4 linked regions of the Homo sapiens genome follow. The protein of the gene in region 2 purifies or fractionates together with the protein of the main gene of each other region. This does not show direct contact. Each region holds a gene or a part of one and is shown on either strand. Other genes may lie near its edges.

Region 1 (3,500 bases), on a different chromosome or scaffold from region 2:
TAAATCTGAATTTTCCAGAAGGCTACCTACCTGAAGAAAAACAAAAAATAATTGCTTCATATTAAAATAATTTTTTCTTCTTATTGTGAAACAACAATCATAGCTATAATAAGATAATGATGTTTCATTCTTTTCTCTCAGGACTTTAATTTTTGGAAGTGAATAAAACTTGTTTTAGAAGACGAGATGACTACAGCTGTAGAGAGAAAGTATATTAATATTAGGAAAAGGCTGGATCAGCTGGGATACCGCCAGACTCTGACAGTGGAGTGTTTACCTTTGGTAGAAAAACTTTTCAGGTAAAGACAAAAATACAGTTTTCAACCTTTATGATCCCTAACCACTTACCTCATTTCTGATTGAACTTCATGCTTTGGTAAAGAAAAGGGTAGCTTTCCGGAAAGGCTTTCAATCATGAAGCTTATCTGTTTTTTCCCTGTCCTCAATCCAGGCCTTCCACACGGCAGAACTCTAAAGGCCACCACTCACGCTGTACTGTTCAAAGTCAACATTTCTGGGGGTTTTCTCTGTGAATGGAATTACAGTTTTTTGGGTTTCTGATATAATTGAGAGACACTTTTCCCTTAAGTTCTTTTTTTTTCCCCCCCTTAAGTTCTATGTCTGCTTCACTGGTCTTCAAATACAGTCATGGATAGTTTCATGACAGGGATACGTTCTGAGAAACATGTCATCATTAGGTGATTTTTTCGTTGTACCAACATCATAGGGTGTGCTTACACAAACCTAGATGGTGTCGCCTACCACAAACCTAGGCTATATGGTCTGTATCCTATGGCTCCTAGGCTACAAACCTGTATAGCATGTTACTATACTGAATACTGTAGGTAATTGTTAACACAGTGGTGCCTATTTGTATATCTGAACATATCTAAACATAGAAAAGGTATTGTGTTGTGCTACAGTGTTACAATGGCCAGATCTCATGAGGCAATAGGAATTTTTCAGCTGCCCCCATTATAAATCTTACAGGACTACTCTCCTTCCTATATGTGGTCTGTCGTTGACCAAAATGTCATCATGTGGTGCATGACTGTATTTTAAGCCTCTTTAGAAATATGTTTTTAGTTATTAGAAAGTTAATGAAATATTTCCTGGTATTTAAATTTTCTGTTCTTTTAGCGACTTAGTTCATACAACTGAGAGCCTTCGGCAATCAAAATTATCTGCTGTGAAAGCTGAAAAAGAAAGTGCCAATTTTGATTTTGTTTTGGAACCCTATAAACTTGAAAATGCAAGATTGAGTAGAGAAAATAATGAATTATACCTAGAGTTAATGAAACTGAGAGAACATTCAGACCAACACGTTAAAGGTAAGTGAAAATTTGATAATTTTTAAAATGCAATGTCTTTGTCCTTTTTATTTTAGAAGGAAAAGCTAACGTCTAATTTTAAAACTATTGATTAGAAAATATAGTAGTCCTACAGCTGGATGGTGTGTGCCTATAGTCCCAGCTACTCGGGAGTTTAAGGTGGGAGGATTGCTTGAGCCCAGGAGTTTGAGACCAGCCTAGGCAACATAGTGAGAACTTGTTTCAAAAAAAAAGAAAAGAAAAGAAAATATGGTACTCCTTCTGCTAATAGCCCCTGAAATACTATAGGGTATGTTGAAGAGTTCCTGAGAAGGAAAATAAATGTGCATTATATAGCTATGATAATCACTATATGTGGATTAAATTTTTAGAATTAAAAATTTAATTAAAATTTTAGAATTAAAATTGCCATAGGGAATATTAAATGCTGGATTTGAAGAAATGTTCTTGAAACAACTTTTGTTTTTCCCTTACTGAAAATAAAAGTAGTAAATAAGGTGAAAACCATGTATCATGCTGACTGTTTTATAGTCAGTCTTTGAGCTGTCAAGTAGAATAGGATGATTTCAAAGGTACTAGGGAAAAGATAATTATATGGTTATCTTTGTATGAATTATTCTTATATTCAGTAGAAAACTTTATCTAATCCATGGTATGAATTCATAATCCTTTAGCTTCAGACCCAATTTACTGGATCAAAAGCTATGATGTACGTTAGGCTAATACAGTAGCTGAAAAATGAAGATTCTCTTTTGTGCTTAGTGAGTTATTTGCAGTTTTGTTAATAATAGTAGAAGAAGGAATAAGTGTCAACTAAAGCATGCATAAGAAGCAGGTGGAGACTTTTAAATTGATATGACTTTTTGTATTTTGTGAAATGGAAAAACTTCATTGGATTTCTTGATCTTTAAAACGGTCTTTGAATCTTTTTCATTTTAAGAGTTGAAAACTTCATTGAAGAAATGTGCACGTGAAACAGCTGATCTGAAATTTCTGAATAACCAATATGCTCATAAACTCAAACTGTTGGAGAAAGAGAGCAAAGCTAAGAATGAAAGAATTCAACAACTTCAAGAAAAGAATTTGCATGCTGTAGTACAAACTCCAGGTAAATCGATTCCTTCTCGAGACAAATTATACACATTTAATCTTTTAACGATATTAACACCATTGACTAAAATAGGACTTTGGATTGGATTTTCATGCTTAGACTTTAGTGTTTGAAAATATATATTGAATAGACCGTAAACTTCTTGATTTATTTCTAATGATCCGGGTAGTAATTTATACGTGTGCTTAGAAATGTATGTAGTATTAGTTACTTAGATACTAGTCTAACTTTAATGCCCAGAGCTTTCTCTAATCAATATTTTAAATTCTTTTTTCTATTATTATTATCATTATTATTTTAGTTGTAAAAGTAATCCATACTCATTAAAGAATTTGGAAATTATGTACTTTCTTAGTTTATTTTACTATTTTTAGCATTATGCTTAGTAGTTATAGAGCAAGAAAAGGAAATGATGGGTCCAGGTGCAGTGGCTCACACCTGTAATCCCACCACTTTGGGAGGCTGAAGTGGGCAGATCATTTGAGGCCGCTTCAAGACCTGTGTGGGAACGTGATGAAACCCCACCTCTACCAAAAATACAAAAATTAGCTGGGCATGGTGGCGCAAGCCTATAGTTCCAGCTACTTGGGAGGCTGAGGTGGGAGGATTGCTTGAGCCTGGGAGGCGGAGGTTGCAGTGAGCTGAGATTGCACCACTGCACTCCAGCTTGGGTGATAGAGTGAGACCCTGTCTCAAAAAAAAAAAAAGAAATGATGGGCCACATCCAGAGTTGGTGATTGTTCAGCAGGTATGGGTTGGTGGTAGAATCTACAATATTAGTGACAAAATCATTAAGATAGCTGAACCATGGGATCAAGATTATGAAATTAAGTGAGTAACAGGGGGCTGCTGGATTATGAGGCTAGGTCAAGACAGATTAAAGAGCATGATGAGTACCAAAAGTAATTTGTTTGCTATGAAGATTGCAGTCAGAGTGGAATTTTGGAGTTGAAGAACTAGAAGCCAGCAGAGTTCTGAGTGATGACAAAGGCCAAAGTGTATCATCTTATTGTGTGCCTGAAGTTGAGGGGAGAGGAGACTCCTGAGAGTGGACAGAT
Region 2 (3,955 bases):
AATAAAAGAAAAAAAAAGAACAAAGGAAGAGGGGTCCTGTTTGAAAGTCAGTCGCAAGTTTGGGCAACTCTGGTCTTCGGGTAGCAGGGGATATAGAATGTCCAATACCAGAGCCCTTACACAGTGGAAAGCACTGACTCAGGCACAAGCCAGGCCACTGGCAATCAAGGTGACACACCTTCTTGCCACCATCGCCCTCCTAGCAGGGTCCCTTCAATGGTGTCTCAGAGCCAACCATCATATCCTCTTATCAACCACCTTTACAATCTCCGGAGCTATTTATGAGCTGACGCCCTCAACAAGTCAGCTTTCAGTACAAACTCCTAGAAAGGCAGGTCAAAGGTCTGACTCCAGAGAAAAAGGCAACAGCTCCCTCTCACAGCTGGGTTAAGTGAAGCTGGAACTCAAAGGCATATTGTTGAGAACAAGCACCCAGTGTCCAGATCAGTAAACAGCGTTTCTCACAGAAAGAAAACTCTCCATTGTGCCCCCATGGCTTCAGGTCCAGACAGGGCCCTTCCCCTGCTCTGTTGCCAGCCTCACTCCCTGGTGCTGCCCGTGGGGACCGAGATAGATGGCCTGGCAGTAAGAACAAGACACGGAAAGCTTTACCTGCCTGATTCTTTCCTTCCTTCTTTGAAGTCAGTCCCTAGAAGGCCAAAGGAGCAATTACTGGGAATTTAGCAGCCTCTGTTCAAGTTCCCGGGAATTCTGACTTTTGTTGATGCCAATGCTGTGTGATTAAGGGGAAAAAAAGGAATTTAAAATATTCATGCAAACGTCTTTTTTTTTCCATGAGACAGGGTCTGACTCTGCTGCTCAGGCTGGAGTGCAGTGAGTTTGAGCTCACTCCAGACTCAAACTCCTAAGTTCAAGTGATCCTCCCAGCTCAGCCTCCCAAGGAGCTGGGACTAAAGGTGTGCACTGCCACATCTGGCTGAGTTTTTTAAAATTCTTTTTGTAGAAATGCAGCCTCACTGTGTTGCTCAGGCTGGTCTCAATCTCCTGGCCTCAAGTGATTCTCCCACCTCAGCCTCCCAAAGTGCTGGGATTACAGGCATGAGCCACCGAGTCCAGCCTAAACTTCATTTCTAATCAAGACATTTAAAGAAAAGGAAAAAAAAGAGAATACTTATTATATGCTAATAAATACCAATTAAGACCACCACCACAACTAGTATTTGCGTTGCACCCGTGGAGAGATGAAAGGGAATGGTAGGTTCTCAGGTCCACCTCCACCCAGGGTAAGAAAGTTCTAACGTTCTGTCAGCTAACTTGCTAGACACTGTGCTCCGAACTACTTCAGCAGGGGATCCACATTGCACAGCTGAGCCATTAGAAGTCTTCAGGTGATTCGCTGAAAATCTATCTCCTTGGACCTTCACCGCACAGAGACCTAGTGCATCACAGAAATTCAATGACTGGCGACCTGCAGTGGCTCACGCCTGTAACCCCAGCACTTTAGGAGGCTGAGGTGGGAGGATTACTTGAGCCCAGGAGTTCCAGGCTATGGTGAGCCATGATGGCACCACGGCACTCCAGCCGGGGGCAACAGAGCAAGACCTTAATACACACACAAACATTTTAAAAGGAAAAAAAAAAAAAAGGCCGGGCGCGGTGGCTAACGCCTGTAATCCCAACACTTTGGGAGGCCAAGGCAGGTGGATCACTTGAGGCCAGGAGTTGCAGACCAGCCTGGCCAAAAGGGCGGAACCCCGTCTCTACTAAAAATACAAAAAATTCGCCGGAGGTGGTGGCGGGCGCCTGTAGTCCCAACCACTCGGGAGGCTGAAGCAGGAGAAGCGCTTGAACCGGGAGGCGGAGGTTGCAGTGAGCCGAGATCGCGCCACTGCACTCCAGAGACAGTCTCAAAAATAAATAAAAATTAATTTTTTTAAAAAAAGAGCTTCAATAACAGAATCTTCTCCTTCCACCCGACTGTCCATCAAACACGTATAATCAAATGATGCCCACTCTCCACAGATGTCTTTTCTGGAGAAAATAATACGCTCGTTCCTCTAATTAGCCCATCGGTTTCAGGTTCATCACTCTGCTATCTTCTCCTGGAGTTTACAAAAGCCCTTCAGAGTGTAAACACCGATGTGGATTCAATCCCACTTCCGGAGAGAGGATCAAACCAGGAATCTAATACAACTGAAAACGGAGCCTGAGCCAGGTGTATCACGCGATGCACTGGGCTCCAGCAGGATTACCCCTGGAATCGGCGTCTGCACCCACTCCCAGCCCTCGTGCTAACTGCGTACGCTTAGCAGAATTTCTCTGATCCTTGGACCCAGCTGCGTAAAAATAAACTTCCTCTCCTGCCACGGGCGCGAATAACTGTGTTAACATCAAATAAAAACGTCTGGGAGAAATACCAAGTTAGGGTCGCTGTCATTAGCTGCTTTCAAGAGAGAGGCGCCCCTACCGCTCTGCTGAAACTTTTAAACGCTCCAGCTGGGTCGCCGTTAAAGTCACAAAACCAGAACCGGAGCCCCATTACTAACCCCTACGCAGGATCCCGCTAGGCTAGGGGGATCCCTGGGGAAGCGGAGTAGAGGACGGGCTGCAGGGGACGGAGGGGCGCCTCCCCGAACCCTGCTCCGGGCCGGCCGGGGGACCCTGCGGGCCGCAGTGGCACAGACACCACCCCCTTCCCCGGCGACCACAGCCTCCGTCTCACCGCGAGACCCGGGGACGCGTGGACTCACCCTGGGGGCAGGGACGACAGATTTGGGGGACCGGACACGGACCAGGCCCTGTTGGACCCTGTCACAGACCCACACACCGGGGACAGAACAAAGAACGGAAGTTCCCCCTCGTTTCGCTTCCGGGTCGGTTGTTCTTGCCACTCACCCGTACCCCCAACGCCCACTTGTTCTGTCTAGGAAAATGGGAGGTCCTCGCCTCTCTGTGGTTTGCTGACTCAGGGCGGCTGGCAGGCGGCGAGGGCAAGGAGCGCGATCGCTGACGCGGCACTCGGGGATCTTTCGCTGCGGGGGCTGGCCGGCTGCGCCCTCTGCTGGCCACGAATGTGCGAAAGCGGCCGACCACGGTCCTGGGCCTCAGGACATGTGCTCCAGCGTCGCCGGCCTTGGGGGCGGGCGGCGGGGGCGCGCGGGGATGTCGAGCCCGCGCTTCTCAGGCTGGCTCGCGAAGGGCAGCAGTAAACATACAATTATTGAAGGATTCATCAATATTAAAAAATGAACCCTGATTTAAAACTTGCCTCCGAACAAACCGAGTTTTTTTTGTTTCTTGTAAAAATGCCCCCTTTAAATTACCCACATCTGAAGAAAACATTCCAGTCCATCACAGAGTTGACATGAGGAAAAAACCCGTGTACAGGTGATGAGAGCAGAGAAGAGGAAGCTTACCGGCCGGGCGCGGAGGCTCACGCCTGTAATCCCAGCACTTTAGGAGGCCGAGGCGGGCGGATCACCTGAGGTCAGGAGTTCGAGACCAGCCTGGCCAACATGGCGAAACCCCGTCTCGACTAAAAATACAAAAAAATTACCCGGGCGTGGTGGCAGACGCCTGTAATCCCAGCTACTCTGGAGGCTGAGACAGGAGAATCGCTTGAACCCAGGAGGCGGAGGTTGCAGTGAGCCGACATCGCACCACTGTACTCCAGGCTGGCCACAGAGTGAGACTGTCTCAAAAAAAAAAAAAAGGAAGCTACAGGTGGAAGCGAGGCGGGGATAGTCAAGGAAGTGACCGTGTCCTGGAGACGCGGCAACCGTGGTGACCGCAGTCAACACAGTAAGCCCCAGCATTCGCATTGTAATTGAGCTCATTCAAGCTGAGCGCTCTCCAGTAGGGACTTTCCCCTGTAGGGAGCATGCGCATTTTGATTTCACCTGTCCTCAAACTGACCCTTTGCTCATTATCTTGGTAAAAAACACGCCCCTGGGTGGAAATTTAAGATGCTAATGAAACATGCAATGTATGAACA
Region 3 (3,500 bases), on a different chromosome or scaffold from region 2:
CTGCACTGGGAAGGGTTTATATTAATAGATACCAATCTGGAGAAAGATTTATTATTTTATCCTTAAAAGTATAACAGTATAGTATAGTATACAGTATAGATTATATACAGCTTATTTTCCACTTGTTTCTACATCTATGAAATAAAGTAGTGATCTATTTTCACTACTCTTTCCAAAAATGTTAAGTATGGAGTTTTGATACCATCTCTAGATGCCCTTACCTTCTTTCTAACCTAAATGTTTCTACAACTAAGTCCTAGCATTGTTAAGATGTGTGTGTGTGTGTGTGTGTGTGTGTGTGTATTCACACAGAGGACTACATACTTACATCTTTCACATTTCCCAACAAAATAAATACAAACAATAACTCCACTACGCACTATTTTATTTTGCCTTGTTTCTGAATTCCCCTTATTAAAACAATTCCTAGAATGACACCTGTTGGAGGATTCAGCCAGCACTGCCCTGTTCATCATTTTCATTATCAGAGCTCAATAATCATATCAAGTGGAAACACGGATTATTCCATTTAGGACAACTTAATTTGATCCTAAAACAACTGTAAGTGACAAAATAAGCCACTTGTAATTTTTATGGATTATCAACACACGAAGGAGAATGCCAAAAATTTCAACCAGAGTTAAGTGGGGAAATGGCAATGTTCCACGAGAGGATCAATGTGATCCTTAGATCCCAGGCCCAGTGTTTTCCCAGAACCTCAACAATCTAAAAAAAACCTCACGAAACTAAGTTTTAAAATTACATACACTTAGTTTTCATTATTAAAATATTAAATACAGATCAAAAGAATTCCCACAAGAATACAAAAGGAAAATAAACATACTTCCCACAACAGAATCTTCATGAAACTTTAAAAACCTTTTATGTGAAACTACGTTTCTTTAGGAGTATTTTCACAAAACACATTTGCACTAATGTGGAGTGTGAAGTTTACAAACTATTCAGAGTTCACACTGATATCAAACATCATAACATTTTTTCAGTTTTCCAAGGCATAGTTGTATGTAACTTATCTCACTTATCTCAAAATATCAAGCAATGTGGTTCTGAAATTGTCTATCCCCATTTATAAAAGGGAACTTAAAGACTTCAGAAACAGCAACAAATAAATGTTCTGTGACATTAAAAGATTAGTTCATGGATATGCAAGTTTGCTTTTTGCTTCAATTGAAATAAAAAATAGCCTGATTAATGTATTATTCACTTACTTTGTTATCAAATACTGTTTTAAGACCTATCATGAATTGATGTCTTGTACTTTTTTTTTTCAGTACTATGACAAACAGCATGAGTTTTGATTAAAAAAACAAGTCATGTTCAAAAGCAATTACAACCTTTTTAGGCAAAAAGAAACACCATTTGAAGAAGGAACACAGACCAGATACATATGATCAAAGTGTAAAGACTGAGAAGAATACACAGAGGGAAATTTTTACATTGACAGAACTAGAAAATGTGTTTGCGCAAAGGCAAAGGCTGATTTCAATAAACAAGTCAAAAATACCATAGGACTTTTTTCCTCTTCTAAAAATTAAGTAAAAGATCAAAAACACATACACACACTCACACACACACATACACGTGCACACACACAGAATCCCTGTGTTCTTTGTTTTGTCTTTAAGAACAATCTGTAAACTTTCTTGATGCTTCCTGCTCTCAATCTTCCAGCATCTCTCTTCCTGCACTCCATGAAAAGCAAGTAGGGGAAATGGGAGCAGCACAGATCCCTATTTAGCATGATGTTCACTGTCTTTAATACCAGTTTGAGTAGACCTGGTATACTGCACTTTAAAAATATTAGTAGCCAACACACTTTTTCTATATGGAATCTTATCACATGAATTAAATATTACCTTAAAGGCCAGAAAAACCTGTAACAAACCATCATTGCTAGAAATATGAGATTTGGTGGGAATGTTGGCATTAGCTTTGGTTAGTGGATGAGTCATATTTCCAGTTCTTAAGGACATGTACAGCACTAAAATATATTTGGCAAAAACAAAAGGGCTGTGATCTTGTGTATATATATGTGGGGCTCTGTTTTTGCTAGAAAAGAGTAGGAGGGAGTGTGGGAGGGGGCAGAGTGGCAGAGGGGTTGATTTATTTTTGAAATTCACTTTTATGAGCACAAAGAGAAGAGCTGTCAGCAGCACACATGCCAATGTCCAAACAGCAGCCAGACTCTCCTCTTTCCGTCTGGGTAGGCCAGACACAAAACTACATCTCACGACCTAGGAAAATCAAGAGTCAGATGCAAGAGAACTAGAGAGAGAAAAAAAAACAGTCCTGGAAATGTCCAGCTACATATGATTGCTAGTGATTAGAACGTGGAGTTTTAATGAATTGAGGGATCGAGGGATATTTAGCCAATCAAAACCAAAAAAAACTAACAGGCAAACCTTAAAGCAAGCTGGCTCCAAAGTATCTTCCTAGCAGGTAATAAGTATAAGAGAAATTAATCTCACCTAAAGAGACAACAAGGAGTCAGATACTGCTCAGGTGCTGCTTAGATGAGTTACAGCATTCTAAGTGCACATCAACAGGGTGACATGTCAGGAACTATAGACAAAGCAGGATCTCGAGCTGTATTTCCAGGCTCCTATCATACAAGAGAGACAATAGTCCCTCTCTAGGTCATTGATAAGACTGCATCTAGAAAGCTACATATTATTCTCAACACAGAGTTGAAAACCTGAACCAACAGTTAAACAAACAGCTAAAGAAACTGACTAAAAATATTTTTTTCTGTAGTTAGAAATGCCAGGAATGTTAATAGTGACTCTTCCATGGGTCTAACTCAAGTAAGGATTTATACGAGGTAAGTTAAAAAAATTAAGGATAATCGATCATTGTGCTGACAAAATTATGGTCTGGCCAATCTAGTATGTTTATGTTTAACAATAACTATGTTAAACAATAATTAAATGAATGACTGGCTGAGTGAAAACACACACACACATGCACACACACACGTGCGCACACACACACTCACACACAAATCCTGAACAGCCTGCACTTACTGGAGAGAGAATTTGGAAGGAGTAAAAAGCTGAGACTAAGGCACTTAATGATGATTACACCCCAGATAGCTGCACAGTGCTTTACAATTTACAGTGCTAGTTCCCATAAATTACTTCATTTAATCATAAAAAACATGTGGAAAGGTCAAGTTGGGTATTATTATCCCCATTTTACAGAGGAGAAAGCTGAGTTTCCAAGTCACCTTACCTGCATCTGGTTTCGTCAGTCATCTAAGTCCTTCTACAGAAAACTTTCTTACATTATATCAAGAGATCACAGCTATACAACCCAGTGAATAAACTTTAATACTTCTTTATTCTTCTATGCCTCGGTTTCCTCAGATATGACATGGGTGTCATTTTAAGTGAGAGGTGAAACTGAAAGAATGTATGAGTTGGGATTTACAGAACGTTCTGGTTTTAAAGAGGCTCACAGTGCAGCAGTTTTACACTTTA
Region 4 (4,210 bases), on a different chromosome or scaffold from region 2:
TAAGATCTTTCACAGTTAGATTTTTGTTGTTGTTCTGTGAGGTTTTGGGGAGAAGTAGAAGGCTGTTTTTGTTTTTGTTTTAGAAACGGTCTCACTCTGTCACCTAGGCTGGAGTGCAGTGGTGCGATCATAGCTCACCGCAACCTCAAACTCCTGGACTCAAGCTACCCTCCTGTCTCAGCCTCCTGAGTAACTAGGACTACAGACATGCACCACCACATCCAGCTGGAAGACAGTTGATTTTTAATTCAGTGGAAATCACTCAAGATCTCCTACAAAGCATACAGCCTGTGATTTATACTACAGTTAGCCAGTGATAATAATCAAGTATCTTAGTTATTTATTTTCCAAAGCAATTCCATAAAGCTCCTTTAAGAAAGGGAGCTGACTTCCTCTCAGATGGGTTAAGCCCTCCCTTTATTTCCTACAATATCAGTCTGTCAATCGCCCCTCAATAAACAGGGACGAGAGTCTTAATAATCCATAAGGTTTACTTCAGTAAGGTTATTAGATTCCTCCTCACTAATTTCAATGACTGTGTCTAAGGAAAAGATCAGAAAATGCAAATCACATTAGGTTTGGGCTGTATATAATGTTTCATAAGGTATGATTCAGCCAGTGGCATATCTAATTCTATGTAATGTTTTTAATAAATGAAACAACTACTAAATAAGCAATGCTAAAAAGGGTAGCATTTAGAATGTAGAGTAGTCTCCAGAAGTGGTTTCAGGGAAGGTATCTGAGCTGTTAGCAGATACCTTTTTTCTCCCTCCCCCTTGATTTTCTCCTTCCCTTTCCCCCTTCCTTCCATTTCTTTGTCCCTGTTCAGGCCACCAGAAGTACTTGACCCACAGATGACCAAAGTGTACTCAAGGGTCTACTGCTCACAAACACTGATGCACATGAACCTTAGAAGGCATCAGTACCTTACTGGTTATGTGACAATGCCTCAGCTTCCTCACCTATAAAGGGAAGATAATAGTACATCCACTTCAATTAAGAAGATTAATTGTTAATAATTTACAACAGTGCCTATTACATAATGTATATGTTTGTTAAAGAAATAGTAGTACTTCAGCACCATTCTTTTTTTTTCCAGCACCATTCTTTATAGCTTTATGGAGGTATAATTAACATATAGAAGTTATATACATTTAAAGTGTATAACCTGATGGCCAGGCACGGTGGCTCACACCTGTAATCTCAGCACTTTGGGAGGCCGAGATGGGCGGATCACCTGAGGTTAGGAGCTCGACACCAGCCTGGCCAACAGGGTGAAACCCCGTCTCTACTAAAAATACAAAAATTAGCTGGGTGTGGTGGCGGGCGCCTATAATCCCAGCTACTTGGGAGGCTGAGGCAGGAGAATCATTTGAACCCGGGAGGCAGAGGTTGCAGTGAGCTGACATTGTGTGCCACTGCACTCCAGCCTGGGCAACAGAGTGAGACTCTGCCTCAAAAAAAATAAAATAAAATAAAAAATAAAGTGTGTAACATGATGTTTTGATATACCTATACATTATGAAATGATTACCACAGTAAAGTGAATTAATATTTCCATCACCTCGCATAGTTACCTTTTGTGTGTGTGTGGTGTGAACACTTATGATCTACTCTGTTAGCAAATTTCAAGTACAAAATTTGTGTCGCATTGCACCATCACGTCATTGCCTATTAATACTGTAATAATAATACAGTATTATTAACTATAGTCACCATGCTGTATGTACATCAGATCCCCAGAACTATTCACACTGCATAACTGAAACTTTGGACCCTTTGCCCAGCATCTCCCCATTCCCCCAACCCACTGGCAACTACCACTCTACTCTCTTTCTGAAACTTCCTCTTTTTTAGATTCCCAATATAAGCGATGCCATGCAGTATTTATTTTTGCAGCCACTTTAAAAACTTTATTTCACTTCAACTTCACCACAAGTACAACCATTGGCATAGTCTTCCAGATGGGAAAACTGAAGCCAAGTGACTTTTGCCAGTTGGATAGGTGGGTTAATAGTGGAATTGTCACACTTATGTTTTCTCACTTTGTTGGGACTCTCTGCTACACAATACAACCGAAAGTGTTAACGTAAAAACATGAACCAGCTTAAAATATCAGAAAAAAAAAATAGTAATGAAACTCTATGAGGAGGAAGAAAGGGCAGAGAACTAGAAGACCCCGGTTCTATTTCTGGACTCCGGCCCAAGTTGGCGCTCCTCACTTTGGACACGTCACTACCCTCCGTGCACAGGACAGCCATCTAAGCCAAGGGTTCAAGCTTTTCTCTTCTTCGGAAAAGGGAAGTGTGGTTCGTGATCTCCTTTGAGATGCAGATGAAAAAATGGCCCCTTGAGCAACAGTAAATGCACAGTTCCCGCAAAACCCATCCAGATAGGGAATTCCTGGCCCAATCCAGCTCCCTCCAACCTCGGGGCGGGCGGAGGCCAGAGAGTGCAGGGAGAGTGGGAGATGCGGATAGGGAAGAGAGGGAGTCCCCCACCCCTGGGTACCGCCCGACTTTGAGGTCCCGTCACTGGGTCCCGGCCGCGCACCGCCGTTCCCGCCACCCTGGACAGACGGGTCCGGAAGGCCCGCGACCCAGGCGCCCTCCTAGGGTCCCGACGCCCCAGGCCTCCGCTCAGAGGCGGCTCCTCGGCCCCGGCATGGAGAGCTCACCTTTCTCCAGAGACGCCAGCTCCTGCTCCACCGCCCAGCCCATGCGCTCCGGCGCCATGGCCGCTGCCTCCAGACCGCCGCCCGTCAGCGACCCGTCAGCCATTTCAAATTTCCGCGGACGGCAGCCCAGGCAACGACGTGATGACGCAGGCTCTGCTGATTTGATAGTCGGGCCGAGGCCGTGGACCAATTAGAGTCCGGCCCCGCTCCAGCCCCCACCAACACTGCCCCCTCGCCCCAGGCTGACAGCTGTTCTTGTTCAAGTGCCCGGCCTTTGCTTTTCTGGGATGAACTTGAAGAAAGTCGAATTGGAATATAATTTGGAATGATTTTCGAAAAAAACGAACCAGCAATGCCTGGAAATGAGATATAGTGGAAAAGTCACTGGGTTGAGAGTCAAAAAACATAGTATTTAAACTTACCTGGGCTATTCCTAGTGGTATTGCCTTGGGCAAGTCATTTCACCTCCCACAAGCACAACTTCAACTGAAAAGGATGCTGGCCTACGTGGGCCCAAAACTTTCACCACCAAACACCAGTCTCTCTCTGTCTTTCAATACACACACACACACACACACACACACAGAGAGAGAGAGAGAGAGAGAGAGCATATTTTCAAAGAATGTCAAATTAAATTTAGTAAGTAAATTTGTTAATTTGCATTAATCAAAGACAACTATAATCTCCATCATAATGGCTAACATTTACTGCATATTGTGTGCAAGATACCCTCCTGCATGCGTTACCTGGATTGTTCTGTTTAATCTTCACAATGATCCTATGAGACGGGAGCTATTACTATACCCATTTTACAAATGAGCAAATGGAGTCACTAAGAAGTTAAGTCACTTCTCCAATCTAACCCAGCAAAGCCAGGATGTGAAACCAGCCAGACTCCATGAAGAAGCCTTTTAATGTCTCTGCCAGGCCATCACTACTAGAATGATGAGGTCAGCCCAAGATAGCCCAGGTAACCAGGACACCAAGTGGGATGCGTCCACAGGGGACCAAGAGCCTGGTCATGACAGTTCGTCTGTGCAGTCTTAATGTGGGGAAACATTTCCACTTATTGCTTTGAAGAAACACCTTGGGCTAAAGTCTCTCGGATCCCTTACAGCTGAAATAAAATGGAGCCAGGAGGGGTGACTGGAAAGCTGCACTTAATTGGGCTAACTTTTCCAGGAAGTAAGATTTCTTTGACTTTTGTTTGCAGAATCTGACCTTACATTTATTTGCTCACTGAACAAATACATATTGAGCACCATGAGGTAAAAACACAGAAAACAATAATCAAGACTATCAACAGGCCTTGAGGATGACGCTAGCTTTTTCATTATTCTCTTCTTCAACCTTGCCGCCCACAAACCTCACAAATGGCAGCATTTCTCCTCACCCATTTGCAGCATCACTGGAGACAACACAGTTCTCTTCTCATCCAATTATCAAATATTTCATCAACCATCAAGATATTACTCAAACCAGGCTAGGCATAGTGGCTCATGCCTGTAATCCCACCACTTTAGGAGACCGAGG

What was found.
Region 1: the proteins of ZNF3 (region 2) and CEP135 purify together in Homo sapiens (co-immunoprecipitation; one large-scale study listed by IntAct). This does not show direct contact.
Region 3: the proteins of ZNF3 (region 2) and PTPRK purify together in Homo sapiens (affinity purification with mass spectrometry; 2 studies listed by BioGRID and IntAct, with this or other methods). This does not show direct contact.
Region 4: the proteins of ZNF3 (region 2) and SHCBP1 purify together in Homo sapiens (affinity purification with mass spectrometry; 2 studies listed by BioGRID and IntAct, with this or other methods). This does not show direct contact.

What each region holds. Positions count from the first base shown.
Region 1 is NC_000004.12:55,951,945-55,955,444, forward strand, and holds part of CEP135 (centrosomal protein of 135 kDa), read left to right. Parts: intron 1-141; 5' UTR 142-186; coding exon 187-299; intron 300-446; exon of another isoform or gene 447-527; intron 528-1,140; coding exon 1,141-1,331; intron 1,332-2,271; coding exon 2,272-2,439; intron 2,440-3,500. UniProt on the Homo sapiens protein: Centrosomal microtubule-binding protein involved in centriole biogenesis. Acts as a scaffolding protein during early centriole biogenesis.
Region 2 is NC_000007.14:100,078,924-100,082,878, forward strand, and holds the start of ZNF3 (zinc finger protein 3), read right to left. Parts: upstream 2,801-3,955; 5' UTR 2,712-2,800; intron 734-2,711; 5' UTR 613-733; intron 1-612. UniProt on the Homo sapiens protein: Involved in cell differentiation and/or proliferation.
Region 3 is NC_000006.12:128,514,100-128,517,599, forward strand, and holds part of PTPRK (receptor-type tyrosine-protein phosphatase kappa isoform b precursor), read right to left. Parts: intron 1-3,500. UniProt on the Homo sapiens protein: Regulation of processes involving cell contact and adhesion such as growth control, tumor invasion, and metastasis. Negative regulator of EGFR signaling pathway. Forms complexes with beta-catenin and gamma-catenin/plakoglobin.
Region 4 is NC_000016.10:46,618,580-46,622,789, forward strand, and holds the start of SHCBP1 (SHC SH2 domain-binding protein 1), read right to left. Parts: upstream 2,801-4,210; 5' UTR 2,781-2,800; coding exon 2,678-2,780; intron 1-2,677. UniProt on the Homo sapiens protein: May play a role in signaling pathways governing cellular proliferation, cell growth and differentiation. May be a component of a novel signaling pathway downstream of Shc. Acts as a positive regulator of FGF signaling in neural progenitor cells.